Regions from separate parts of the Homo sapiens genome. Here regions 2 and 3 are each linked to region 1. Evidence: fine-mapped expression QTL. A gene starts in region 1. Each other region holds a variant in brackets. All regions are shown on one strand. Distances are from middle to middle.

What was found. PIP is the estimated chance that this variant, and not a neighbour inherited with it, causes the effect.
Region 2: its variant is the best candidate, but not a certain one, in a credible set for the expression of SLC49A3 in coronary artery (GTEx, PIP 0.81).
Region 3: its variant is the best candidate, but not a certain one, in a credible set for the expression of SLC49A3 in tibial nerve (GTEx, PIP 0.75).

What each region holds. Positions count from the first base shown.
Region 1 is chr4:687,266-691,485 of GRCh38, forward strand. SLC49A3 (solute carrier family 49 member 3) reads right to left here and starts at 1,886. Exons shown (of 10, transcript NM_032219.4): 1 at 1,728-1,886. The coding sequence starts at 1,862. LOC124900643 (a long non-coding RNA gene) reads left to right here. Exons shown (of 2, transcript XR_007057985.1): 2 at 207-754. RefSeq lists enhancers at 1-252, 1,201-2,149, 2,150-3,097, 2,873-2,922 and silencers at 1,673-1,842, 1,873-1,932.
Region 2 is chr4:646,142-650,141 of GRCh38, forward strand. The region is part of intron 3 of PDE6B (phosphodiesterase 6B); the gene reads left to right. Among named protein-coding and RNA genes, the nearest start is that of PDE6B-AS1, 7.1 kb to the right of the region's middle. The variant A/G (reference allele first, on the strand shown) is at 1,811.
Region 3 is chr4:665,320-669,319 of GRCh38, forward strand. PDE6B (phosphodiesterase 6B) reads left to right here. Exons shown (of 22, transcript NM_000283.4): 19 at 1-10; 20 at 1,212-1,295; 21 at 2,537-2,687. Among named protein-coding and RNA genes, the nearest start is that of ATP5ME, 7.0 kb to the right of the region's middle. The variant G/A (reference allele first, on the strand shown) is at 1,609.

The DNA.
Region 1 (4,220 bases):
CCAAAGTGGAGCGGGTCACCGGGGCTCACTCCGGGAGGCAGGAGGCCGTGTCACTCAAGGTCAACTTCCATGAGTCGACTGAGCTCCAGGCCACACCCTCGGACACAGCAGCCAGACCCAGGCTCCGCCCGGACAAGGTCTGACTCAGCCCACGGGACAGGACAGGGAGCTTGGGCAACAGCCGCCCTGTCTTCCTTTTTCTGCAGGACGGGGCCAGGCACAGAACGAGCTCCCCAGGCCCAGCTGGTGCCTGCCTGGCCGAGCCCGGGAGAGAAAGCCCACCCTGCGGAGCCGAGCCCGCCGCTCCAGCCTCAGCCCTGTCCTGGTTCCTCGGGGGCCTGAGTGGGGCCCACAGCTGACTCACTGAGAAGAGATGCGTCTGAAGCGTGCGGGGCAACGTGGGAGGACGATCTGTCTGACTCCCTTCCTCATCTCCCAGCCTCGACCCTGCCTGCGCTCGCCCCCTTGGGTCCTTTGAGTCTCATCCAGAGCACTGGGCTGCCTTCCGGGGTGGGTGTTGACCCAAGCTCTGCTCCGCCTGGCCCTCATGCTGCTGGTTGGAACCCGGGATCCCTGGTCACTGGCTGCAGATGAGTAACCTCCAGCCTCAAGGGCACTTGGCTGGAGTGAACATGGTGCTTACGGCTCACTGTGGTGACCCAGGCAGAGACCATGACGACTCTTGGTGTCAGGGTGAGATTTCTGTGTGCTCCATGATGACTCGTGGATATTAATAAAACAGTGAAGAACTGCAGCAGGAGGCCCTTGACTGTCCAAGGAACGCCCCACACCTACGACACCCACTGACTCTTGGACCATGAAACCAGCCCTGCACCCTCAGACACTCCACCCAAAGCCAGTTATGGCTTCCCCAGTGCCTGGACATGGTGGGCCAGGACGCCAAGCCACAGCAGTGAGTTACGGCTCGTGCCAGCATTGTGGGCAGCAGGCAGCCCCTGGGCCCATCCAGCAGATCCCGGGCCTGTCTCGGCCAGAGGCTGGCCCTCCATACCCAGCCAGCAAAGGAGGAGGGGAGAGGCCCCGGGGTCCACCTGGAAGAGCCCTGACCCAGGCCTGAGAGTGACTCCTGCCCCTGCCCCCGAGCTTCCTGACCATCCCCGTGACCTGGCGCCTCCCTGAGCTGTGGGTCCTGCTGCCAACTCTAGCTGTTCATTGCACGTTGGCCAGATACTGCCTGACCAGTTCCTGAGGCTCCGGGGGATGGCTGATGAGGGCACACAGGGCGGGAAAGGCTGCAGCGTGCAACACCTGAAGGGGGTGGGGGCAGGACGGAACCCAGCCCAGCCCAGGAGCCGCCCCTCACTCAGAGTCAGGTGGAGGGGAGGGCGGCTCCAAGCGCGCCTCTGCTGTGTGCCTGCTGTCCTGGGGCTGGGAGGCGTGGAAGGAGAGAGGGCCAACGCAGGGCCACCTGTATGTGACTGGCTGGGGAAGAGGGACCCAGGCTGGAGCCACTGAAGGCTGGGAAGGGCTGGGACTCCGTGACTGGCAGATCCCCCGGGGCACCCAGCCCTGCTCTGTGCCCTGGGCCCAGCCACCTCCAGGACAGACAGTGCCCCCAGTGCCCGCAATCCCTAGCCACCTCCAGAAGGCACCCCCCGCCCCCAGCCAGCACCTGGCACCTCGGGCTGTGGCCACAGGAAAACAAAACCCGGCTGGTCCGAGGGACTGAGGGTCCCGGAGCCACCTGTCCCCGCCCCTGCCCCTACCGTGGCGTTGGAGCAGTTGAGCAGGCTGATCGCGAGCAGGAACACCCAGCGGCGCGCGTAGGTGCGGTGGCCCCGCTGCGCGCACAGGGCCCGGGGCTCGGCCAACCCCGTCTCGGCCTCCGTCGGCCCCGCCATCGTCGGCGGCCTCCACGGGTCTCCGCCGGTCCCGCCGGCCGCCCGGGCTTAAGGACCTTCCCGCGTGGGCCGGGACCGCCTGCGGGCGGAGGTGGGGCCGGGCCGGGCCGGGCCACGGGGGGCCAGTTCCGCCCCAAGGACTACGGAGGAGGGTCCCGCCCCGTCCCAGTTAAAGGAGACCCAAAAAAGCGGGGGAAGGGCGGGCAAAGGTGAAGTTGGACCCTCCTCCTTCGGCCTCAGGCTGGAAGTCCCTGCCACAAAAACCGAATGTCCCTTCCGGGAAGGGCCCCGGTCACAGCCTGTGTGCTTCTCAGCAGGAAAGGCGGCCTGGAAGTCACTCTGCCCAGCAGAAGCTCTGCACTTCCTGAAGGGGGCTGTGGACCCCAAGTTCCTGAGGTTCAAGCCAGCCACAGGGAGGGGCCAGAGGCCAGCCTGGAAGAAGAGGCTGGGCTGGCTTTGCGCAGAGCCTCAAATCAGACCAGTCCCTCTACAGCCCCTGCGGGAAGCAGGCATGGGGTAGGAGGGCGAGGGGCTGCAGGCCAAGGCTGGAGGGAAGGCCAGAAAGGCCTGTGGGCCCCACCCTGGGGTAGGCAGTCCGCCACACACGCACCGGATTGTTACCTGCATTTTACAATGGAGGACACGGCTCTCAGAGGAGTAGGCACAGGTTTCTGTTTGTTTAGGATGGAGAGGCCTGTGTGTTGGAAGGCAGAGGAGGGAGTTTCGGCTTAGTCTTTTCTGCAAGAACCTGCTGATCCCACAACTGTGCCTGGCCCACCCTGGGGGAACCCAAGAGGCTCCAGGCCCTGTTGCTGAGGCCAGTATAGGGGTGGGGTGGAGGCTGGCCTGGTCAGACGTGCAAACAGGATTTCCCCCAAACAGGGAGGCTCTCTTGACCCTTGAAACCATCCCCGTTTCCTGAACAGTATTATTCGTGGTTTTTGTCTTAAACATTCATCTCCTTTGCCAGGGCCTGTCCATTTTCCACACCTGAGTCTGAACAGGCTAATGATGAGGCCCCAGCTTTCACTGTGCAGTCTTCTGCAGGGATTGTGTGTGTGTCTCAGATAGAGCTCTCCACTTTGGGATTTTTTTTTTTTTGTAGAGTCTCATCCAGTAACAAAGAGAAAATGGAGCTCACCCGGGGTGTCCTGAGATGGGTGGGCCCCAAGGGGGTTCCATTCTCTGAGACGTGTGATGGAGCCCTGTGGTCCTCACTCTCTTTATCTCCTCTGCCTTCCCCACCGTCTAGCCTCCCCCCTCATCTTTGTTCCCCATTCCCCCACCAGTTCCTTCTGTTCTCCTTCTCCTCACCTCTTGCTCGCCCTGCCCTGAGGACCCAGCCCCCTCACAACCTTCCTCCATAGTCCAGTGCCAATGTTGGCCTAGGGCCTTCAACATCCCCTAACCCCACCTGGCAGAGGGGGAGTTGCAGTGCAGGCTTCCCTGTTGAGGGACCTCACTATTGTGGAGCACTGCCTCTGACAGGTGGTGTCTGAGCCTGTCACCATGAAATGGGGCAGCCACAGTAGCTACCTCCATCGTTCAGTCTCTGTTGAGCGTGCATTGTCGAGGGGTGTCACCATGAAACGGGGCAGCCACTGTAGCTACCTCCATTGTTCAGTCTCTGTTGAGCGTGCATTGTTGAGGGGCTCCTCCTCCCTACATGTCGGAACTCTTGGGTTGAGCAGGTGAGCTCAGCAACATTGCAGAATGCAAGATCAGCACACAACAATCGCTTGCATTGATGTATACCAACAAGAAACATGAAAACCAAAGTTAAAGACATTCATAATTACTCCAAGGAAAATTAAATACTTTGGTATAAACTTAGCAAACCATCTACAGAACTTGCATGCTAAAAATTACAAACCATGGGCCGGGTGCGGTGGCTCACGCCTGTAATCCCAGCACTTTGGGAGGCCAAGGCAGGTGGATCACAAGGTCAGGAGTTCAAGACCAGCCTGGCCAACATGGTGAAACCCAGTCTCTAGTAAAAATACAAAAATTAGCCAGGTGTGGTGACATGCACCTGTAGTCCCAGCTATTTGGGAGGCTGAGGTAAGAGAATCTCGAACCCGGGAAGCAGAGGTTGCAGTGAGCTGAGATCATGCCACTGCACTCCAGCCTGGGCAACAGAGTGAGACTCTGTCTCAAAAAAAAAAAAAAAAAATTACAAACCATGGCTGGGCGAGGTAGCTCACATCTATAATCCCAGCACTTTGGGAGGCCGAGGTGGGTGGATTACCTGAGGTCGGGAGTTCAAGACCAGCCTGGCCAATATGGTGAAACCGTCTTCACTAAAAATGCAACAGATTAGCTGGGCATGGTGGTGCATGCCTGTAATCCCAGCTACTC
Region 2 (4,000 bases), 41 kb before region 1:
CTTTGAACATTTTCTGCTGGGCAAGTCCACTGGTAACACATTCCTCAGTTTCTGTTTATCTGAGAAAGTCTTTATTTCTCCTTCACTTCTTAAGGATAATTTTACTGTATACAGAATTATAAGTTAGCACATTTTTTTCTCAACACTTCCAATACTTCACTCTCCTCTTGCTCGCATCGTTTCTGATGAGATGTTTCCAACGTCTCGTTCCACTCTTGGTCAGATGTTCCCCCACCCCCAGCTTCCCTCGAGGTTTTCAGCTTGGTTGTCTGCAGTTTGAATATGACGTGCCTTAGGATCAGTTTTTTGGCATTTGTCTTTTTTGACAGTCACTGAGCATCCTAGACGCGCGGTTTGGTGTCTGTCAATACTTTTGGAAAATCTCAGCCATTATTACTTCCAACATGTCTTCTCCTTCGCTCTTTCTGCTCCTTCCGGCACCCGCCGCCCACTCGCACCTTCTGTATTTGTCTCTCTGCTCCGCTCGCTCCGCTCGTGGTTCCCTCTGCGTTTCTGTGTTCGCGCTCCCGGCCCCCTTCCTCAGACACGCGCAGCCTCCGGCCGGGCGGCGGCGCACTGCGTTTCCACCTCGCATTTCCTGTACTCCAGCGCGCCTTGTCCTTCCCAGAGCGTCCATCTCTTTGCTTATGTTACCATCTGCTCCGGTGCGCTGCCTCCGTTTTCTAGTAGCGCCTTTAGCATATTGATCATCATAATTTTCCTTTTTTTTTTTTGAGACATTGTCTTGCTCTGTGGCCCTGGCTGGAGTGCAGTGGCTCAATCTCGGCTCACTGCAGCCGCCGCTTCCTGGGTTCCAGTGATTCTCCTGCCTCAGCCTCCTGAGTAGCTGGGATTACAGGTGCCCACCACCGCGGCCCGGCTAATTTTTGTATTTTTAGTAGAGATGAGTGTCACCATGTTGGCCAGGCTGGTCTTGAACTCCTGACTTCAGTTGAACTGCCCGCCTCAGCCTCCCAAAGCACTAGAATTACAGGCATGCGCCACCTCGCCTGGCCTGATCATAGTAATTTTAAATTCCCAGTCTGATAATTCCCAACTTCGTGTCACATCTGAGTCTGGTTCTGAGGCTTGCTTTGCCTTTTTGGACTGTTGCTTTTTCTTGCCTTTTAGCATGACTTATAATTTTTGGCCAAAGCAGGGACTGGGGCAAATCAGCCTTGAGTGTGGGATTTGGGGTCCATCTGGCCGGGAGCTGGGCTGTATTGAATGAACATTTGCTGCAGCTGAGGGTGACAGCAGCTTCCGCGCCCTTGTTTATGGTTTGTTTTTGCTTCTGTATTAGCTTGAGCTGCCATAACAAAATACCACACACCGAGCACCTGAGACAGTGGGCATTCGTTTCTGACACTTCTGGAGGCTGTGAAGTTCCAGATGAAGGTGCTGACCAGGTTCCATTTCTGGCGAGGGCTCTCTCCCTGGCTTGCTGTGTCCTCGTCCCATAAGGGCACGTCTCGTAGGGGCCCCAGGCTCGTGACCTCACCTAACCCTAATCATCCCCCAGGGCCCCACCTCCACTCACCATCGCATCTCGGGTGAGGGCTTCACAGATGCATGGGGGGAGGGGCACGCAATCTAGTACACAGCGGGAACCACCCAGCAACAGACCTCAGTTTTAAAAGTGTGGCTCTGGCCAGGTGTGATGGCTCATGCCTGTAATCCCAGCACTTTGGGAGGCTGAGGCGCGCAGATCACCTGAGGTCAGGAGTTCGAGACCAGCCTGGCCAAAATGGTGAAACCCCATCTCTAGTAAAAAATACAAAAAATTAGCTGGGCGTGGTGGTGCATGCCT[A/G]TAACCCCAGCTACTCAGGAGGCTGAGGCAGGAAAATTGCTTGAACCCGGGAGGCAGAGGTAGCAGTGAGCCAAGATCGCGCCACTGCACTTTAGCCTGGGCAACAAGAGCAAAACTCCATCTCGAAAAAAAAAAGAAAGAAAGAGCCAAGAGTCAGGCGTATTTGCCCGTTCTGTTGTCTGGTCACCCCAGCCCTAAACCAGGCAACAAGTGAATTACCAACACCTAGGAAACTCCTTGTTTCCAGCCTCTCAGTCTGCAGGCATGTGGAGACCAGCTCAAGGTTCTAACACGTGACCTTGTGTCTCCATGTGAGACTTTCGATTTTGCACCAGACATTGCCCAGTCCTAGGAAAAGCTGTTTCTGGGTCTTGCCCTCCGAACGGCATTTTTAGGCATCCTGACTTGCAGGAGGCACAGGCCTGCCTCACGGCTCTTTTTGAAAATAAAAGTTTGTGATGAGCAAAGATTGGCCCCCGCAGTCCGCCCAACGCCTGCACTTCGTCTGCCTCCTCCTTGAGCTGTGGAAGGAAAGCTGGTCACTGGGATTGAAGCAGCCTCTGGGCGCTCCCCCCTCCCTCTGTCCCGGGCCCTCACCTGGACAATCAGGAACTACCTTCTGTCCCAGGCACCCTCCAGCTGGAGGCCCCTGCCATTCCCTTTCTGAAAAGCCTCTCGGACACTCCCATCAGAGCCAACAGAGGCCGCAGGAAAGCCATGGGTTAGGCCCTACAGAGCTCAGGTTTCTCTCTGACCTGTCACGGCAGCTGCCTGTTCGGCTTAGTGGAGCAATTCTCACCGCCCAGCTGTCTGAGCTGCAGCAAAGCTGCATGAAAGGCCTGTGGGTGCAGGGCTGCAGCTCTCACCTTCAGGCCGGCCATGCGTCAGGACCCGGTGGCTCGCTGCAAGGGCGGAGGAGGTGCCCCGACTCAGGTCAGGCATGGGAGGAGCGGGGGAGCCTTCTGTCTCTGCAGGTCTGACTCCTGCCTCCTGTGAGGAAGCAGAGCCATTCAGAAGTGAGAGGCGGCCAGGAGGGGCGGGCGTGGTCTGTCCACACCGGGCAGTGGCGGGAGCCTGTTGAGCTGGCCAACTTCGGACTTAGGGCCCCACCATGATGAGCCAGATGGAGCTGTGGGGAGATCCACGCTGGCACAGCAGTCCGTCTGCCGTAGCGAAGCCCCGAGCACGGCCAACAGCGACCCACAGTGGGGCGGGGCGGGTGATCCTGGGTGTCTGTCGCCTTTCCTTTTAATACAGTGTTCTAGTTTATAGGTTACATGATTTAATTGACATAATGGCCATGATTGAATTGTCATAATGGCTATGTTTAATGGCTGGCTCTCAGAATGCCTGAGGATTCAACAACCAGCTCTGAGAAGCTCACCATGAGATGAAGCCCTCTGCCCTGATGCCAGGACACACACTAGATTTGTCAAGGCCCTGGGCCCAGGGGGAAACGTCTCCAGAAACAAGGCTCCTGGGGCTGGGGCTTCAGTAGGGCCGAGGCCCGTCCTAGCGACCAGGCCTCCAAGGGACGCTGGGGCCACCTGCTGCTGCTTTGAAAGTGAAGGAGCGCCATTCTTGGATTCCCCAGGCACTCGCTGGGGTCCCTTATGCTGACCACAGCCTGGGAAGACTGTTCACTGGTGGACCCACAAAGGCCTGGGAAGACTGTTCGCTGGTGGACCCACAGAGGCCTGGGAAGACTGTTCGCTGGTGGACCCACAAAGGCCTGGGGTTGGGACCGCGTAGGCCTGAGCGCTTGCCTCCCACCACAGCTATGGCCCAGGGCTCAGGGTCGGGGGGAGACTCTGGCCCTACTCCACTGGCTGGGCAGCCAGTGGGGATCCCATCTGCCCTGGCCCCTCAGGACCTCCTGGCCCCTCCTTCCCATAAGTAATGAGAGGGCCATGAGGCTGAGCAGCTCCCCTTCCAGGGCCATATGCGTCTCTGTGCCTTCTGCCCCCCATGTCAGTGGATCCCTCATTTCTGAGTACACGGGGTGGCCACCGCTGTCACCCTGGTTTCACCCTGGAGCATTAAACCTGACCCCAGTCAATGCAGGAGGGACACAACCTCAGCTTCCATGCAGCCCAGAAGCCCAGGCTGCTCGAACCATCCCCGGGGCCTTGTGGATGCAGCAGGTGTATCCTGTACCGGGGTGCTGGGACGCTGGGCACGGGCTTGGGG
Region 3 (4,000 bases), 22 kb before region 1:
GCAGCCCATTGTGAGTGCTGCTTCTGGAACCTTCCACTCCTGAAACGGGTGTTAGAGACCCCTCTTGGTCCTCAGGAGCCTCAGGTCCTGGCTTGGTCTCAGGCAGGGGGTTCTGAGGTCGTGGGGTCCTTATCTCACTTTGTGGGATCATGTGACATGCGTGTGGGTGGCTCGGACCTGGGTACAGCTGTGGCTTGGGTGATGCTTATGCAGAGGTGACGTCGTTGGCACTGGAGGAACCAGGGCCACCCGCTCATCACCAGGAGCCTCTGGGTCCAGGCAGCTCTGCAGGTGAACCCCAGCAGGGCCGCGAGCCATGCACCAAGAAAGCCCTGGGGAGGGTGCTGGGGCAGAGAACGCATGGGGGGCGTCCCGGGCCCACACAGTGGTATGATGGACAATGCCAGGGTCCTCAGGTCAGCAGCGGGGTCTGGATACCTCCTGGCAGCAGGAGAGGTGCCAGCAAATGGGAGAGTCAGGATAGGCGCCAGGAACAGGAGAGGCAGGGCTGCCCCAGCCCCACGTGGACCAGGTGGGAGCTGTGGTTTCTCACACACCCGCTCTGGTGGGCGGCGAGGGGCTCTCTGGAGCCTGCAGTGGAGAGGGCTTAGGCCAGGTGCAGCCTCGGCAGGAAAGGGGGCATTGGTTGGTCAGCAAAGCCCCACAGGGGAAGGACAGGCAGCAGGTCCATCCCCCGCGCCCGGCCTCTAGAGTCCTGCATGGTTCACCCTCCACCAGGACGCTGTGAGGGGACGGACAGCCCAGGGCACTCGGGGTCTGACACTAGAAACAGCTCCAGAGCACGTCTGTGTCTGCCCCAGGCGAGTGCACAGCGAGGTCCTGGTCAGCCGAGTGTCTGGGCAGTGCAGCCCAGCCCGGCTCAGCACTGTGTACAGCCCATCCCCCTCCCCGCCTCTCCCCAGCTGCAGTAAGGGTCCCCAGAGCCAAGAGGGGGCTGCCCTCAGGGGACCACGGGCTGGAGCCAACAGCAGCTGTGGGAAGAAGCTGCCCACAGTTCCTAGGAGCTGTGGAGCCGCTGGCCAAGGGAGAGGGTGTCAGCTTCCCCTCCCGAGAGCCAGTTTCTGTCAGGCAGGCTCGTCCCAGGCTGTGTCTCCATGAGCACATCTGAGTGAGGGGGTCGGGGGGCTGGGCGGGGCCCCAGGAGCTGCCTCCCTGGTCACTGTTCTCCCGCCCTCTGTTCCTCCCACCAGCCTATGATGGACCGGAACAAGGCGGCCGAGCTCCCCAAGCTGCAAGTGGGCTTCATCGACTTCGTGTGCACATTCGTGTACAAGGCGAGTGGTTCACGGGTGTTCCGAGCTGACTGGGGCAGGGTGGCTGGGAGCAGGCAAGGGGGCGCGGGCTGGAGTCGCGTGGACTCACACGGGCCCGGCGGTGTCCTCACTGGAGTAGGGATGCCAGTGCCAGCTTCGTGCCGCTCTTGAGTGGGGCAAATGGGGAGGAACATCAGTTTCCGGACCCCCACAGGTGCCCCAGCCCATCCTCACCCTGCTGTGCCCCTGGAAGCTCTGAGCCCTTTCCCAGCCCAGAATGTCCTCTGCTAGCCTCCAGGCCTACCCCAGAAGTTCTCCCTCAGTGCCCTCCGCC[G/A]TGGCCAGCACACTGTTTTGGGGGCCTTGGCTGCAGCTCTGTGGGTTCATTTGTTCCATGTTTGTGAACCCTCGAGGCGGGGCTGGGTCGGCCTGTCTGCTGGTGCACCCGCCCACAGGGGCGTTTGGAACAGCAGAAGGAGCCACATCCCTGCCAATCTGCCACAGTCCGATGCCAGCTGAGTCTCTGAGGACGCAAGGCGGACATGGAGGGGGAGACTCGATGGGGCAGGGGTCTGACCGTGGGGCCCTGTGTGATGCCCATAAGAGCCAGCTGCCTCCGGCCACACTCCCTGGTGATGGAATCCACGCCCCAAGGAGGATGCCACGGGTTCCACATGAAGTTGTCCCGGAGTGGGCTGTGCCCACTCCCCGCCCCATCCTACCCACCCCGGGTCGTCAGTGCTGGGGAGAAGGTGGGACAAGGGTGGATATTTGGGCCTGAAGTGGCCACAGGTCACGGCCCCACTGCAGGTGCCCCCCACTGCCTTCCCCACCCCGCCACACTCCATGTGTGATGTGCGCGAGTGCACGCGTGTGCTGTGCTTGCATGATGTGTGCCGTGTGTGTGTGGGAGGGACGGGAGAAGGCACTGCAGGGGCTGCCTGCTGTCCGCCTGTGCCCACCACCCCTCTGCCTGGCACCCTGCCCCCACCCCCTGAGCTGTTCTGCTCATTCTTGGGTTCCTCTCCCTGCAACACTGCACCCTAAGCATGCATACCCTAAAGCTCCCGGCTTCAATGTCACCAACACAGCCCCCGAGGTTTCTCCCTTCACAGGGCTCTGCTGGGAAGGTGCCCCCTCCGTGGCGCTCCCTCCTCCTGCCAGGCAGTTCATCCCCTACGAGGGGGATGAGCTGGGGAAGGGCTATCTTACTCTGGAGAGAGCAGGCAGGACAGGACTGGTGGTGACTTCTCGACTCCCCTCAGGAGTTCTCTCGTTTCCACGAAGAGATCCTGCCCATGTTCGACCGACTGCAGAACAATAGGAAAGAGTGGAAGGCGCTGGCTGATGAGTATGAGGCCAAAGTGAAGGCTCTGGAGGAGAAGGAGGAGGAGGAGAGGGTGGCAGCCAAGAAAGGTCTGGCTCTGTGTGGCCTGTGGGGCAGGGACTCGGTGACTCTCCCAAGGCAAAATGAAAAGACAGGGCACAGAGCAGAGTTAAAATGGAGAAAAGCAGAGCCACTTTCAAGAAGCCTCGAGGTGGACAGGGCCACAGTGCAGGGAGAGAGGCCACGGCGGGGGAGAGTGGCAGCTGACTCCACCTCGGTAGCAAACCCGGACTGAAAAATTTCCTCTGTTCCTAGCCAGTGAACCCCATTTTTCAAGAAAGAAGTAACCATATCTTATGTCCTTTATAAAGGACTTAGTTGCAACAAGTCAGCACACCCCCAAGTTCAAATCCCAAAGGCATCGTGGTCTTGCCATTGGCCCGCACTTGGCTACCTTAGCTCTGAGGTTTGGCTTGCTATTCCCGCTGCTCCCAGTATCCCATGCTATTCCCGCTACCCCATGCTGCTCCCACTACCCCATGCTGCTCCCACTACCCCATGCTGCTCCCACTACCCCATGCTATTCCCCTACCCCATGCTAGTACCACTACCCCATGCTATTCCCGCTACCCCATGCTATTCCCCTACCCCATGCTAGTACCACTACCCCATGCTATTCCCGCTACCCCATGCTATTCCCCTACCCCATGCTATTCCCGCTACCCCATGCTGCTCCCACTACCCCACGCTATTCCCCTACCCCATGCTATTCCCGCTATGCCATGCTATTCCCCTACCCCATGCTATTCCTGCTATGCCATGCTATTCCCCTACCCCATGCTATTCCCCTACCCCATGCTGCTCCCACTACCCCACGCTATTCCCCTACCCCATGCTGCTCCCACTACCCCACGCTATTCCCCTACCCCATGCTATTCCCGCTATGCCATGCTATTCCCGCTACCCCATGCTATTCCCCTACCCCATGCTGCTCCCACTACCCCACGCTATTCCCCTACCCCATGCTGCTCCCACTACCCCACGCTATTCCCCTACCCCATGCTGCTCCCACTACCCCACGCTATTCCCCTACCCCATGCTATTCCCGCTATGCCATGCTATTCCCGCTACCCCATGCTATTCCCCTACCCCATGCTGCTCCCACTACCCCACGCTATTCCCCTACCCCATGCTGCTCCCACTACCCCACGCTATTCCCCTACCCCATGCTGCTCCCACTACCCCACGCTATTCCCCTACCCCATGCTATTCCCGCTATGCCATGCTATTCCCGCTACCCCATGCTATTCCCCTACCCTATGCTGCTCCCACTACCCCATGCTATTCCCACTACTCCATGCTGCTGCCACTACCCCATGCTAGTCCCACTACCCCATGCTAT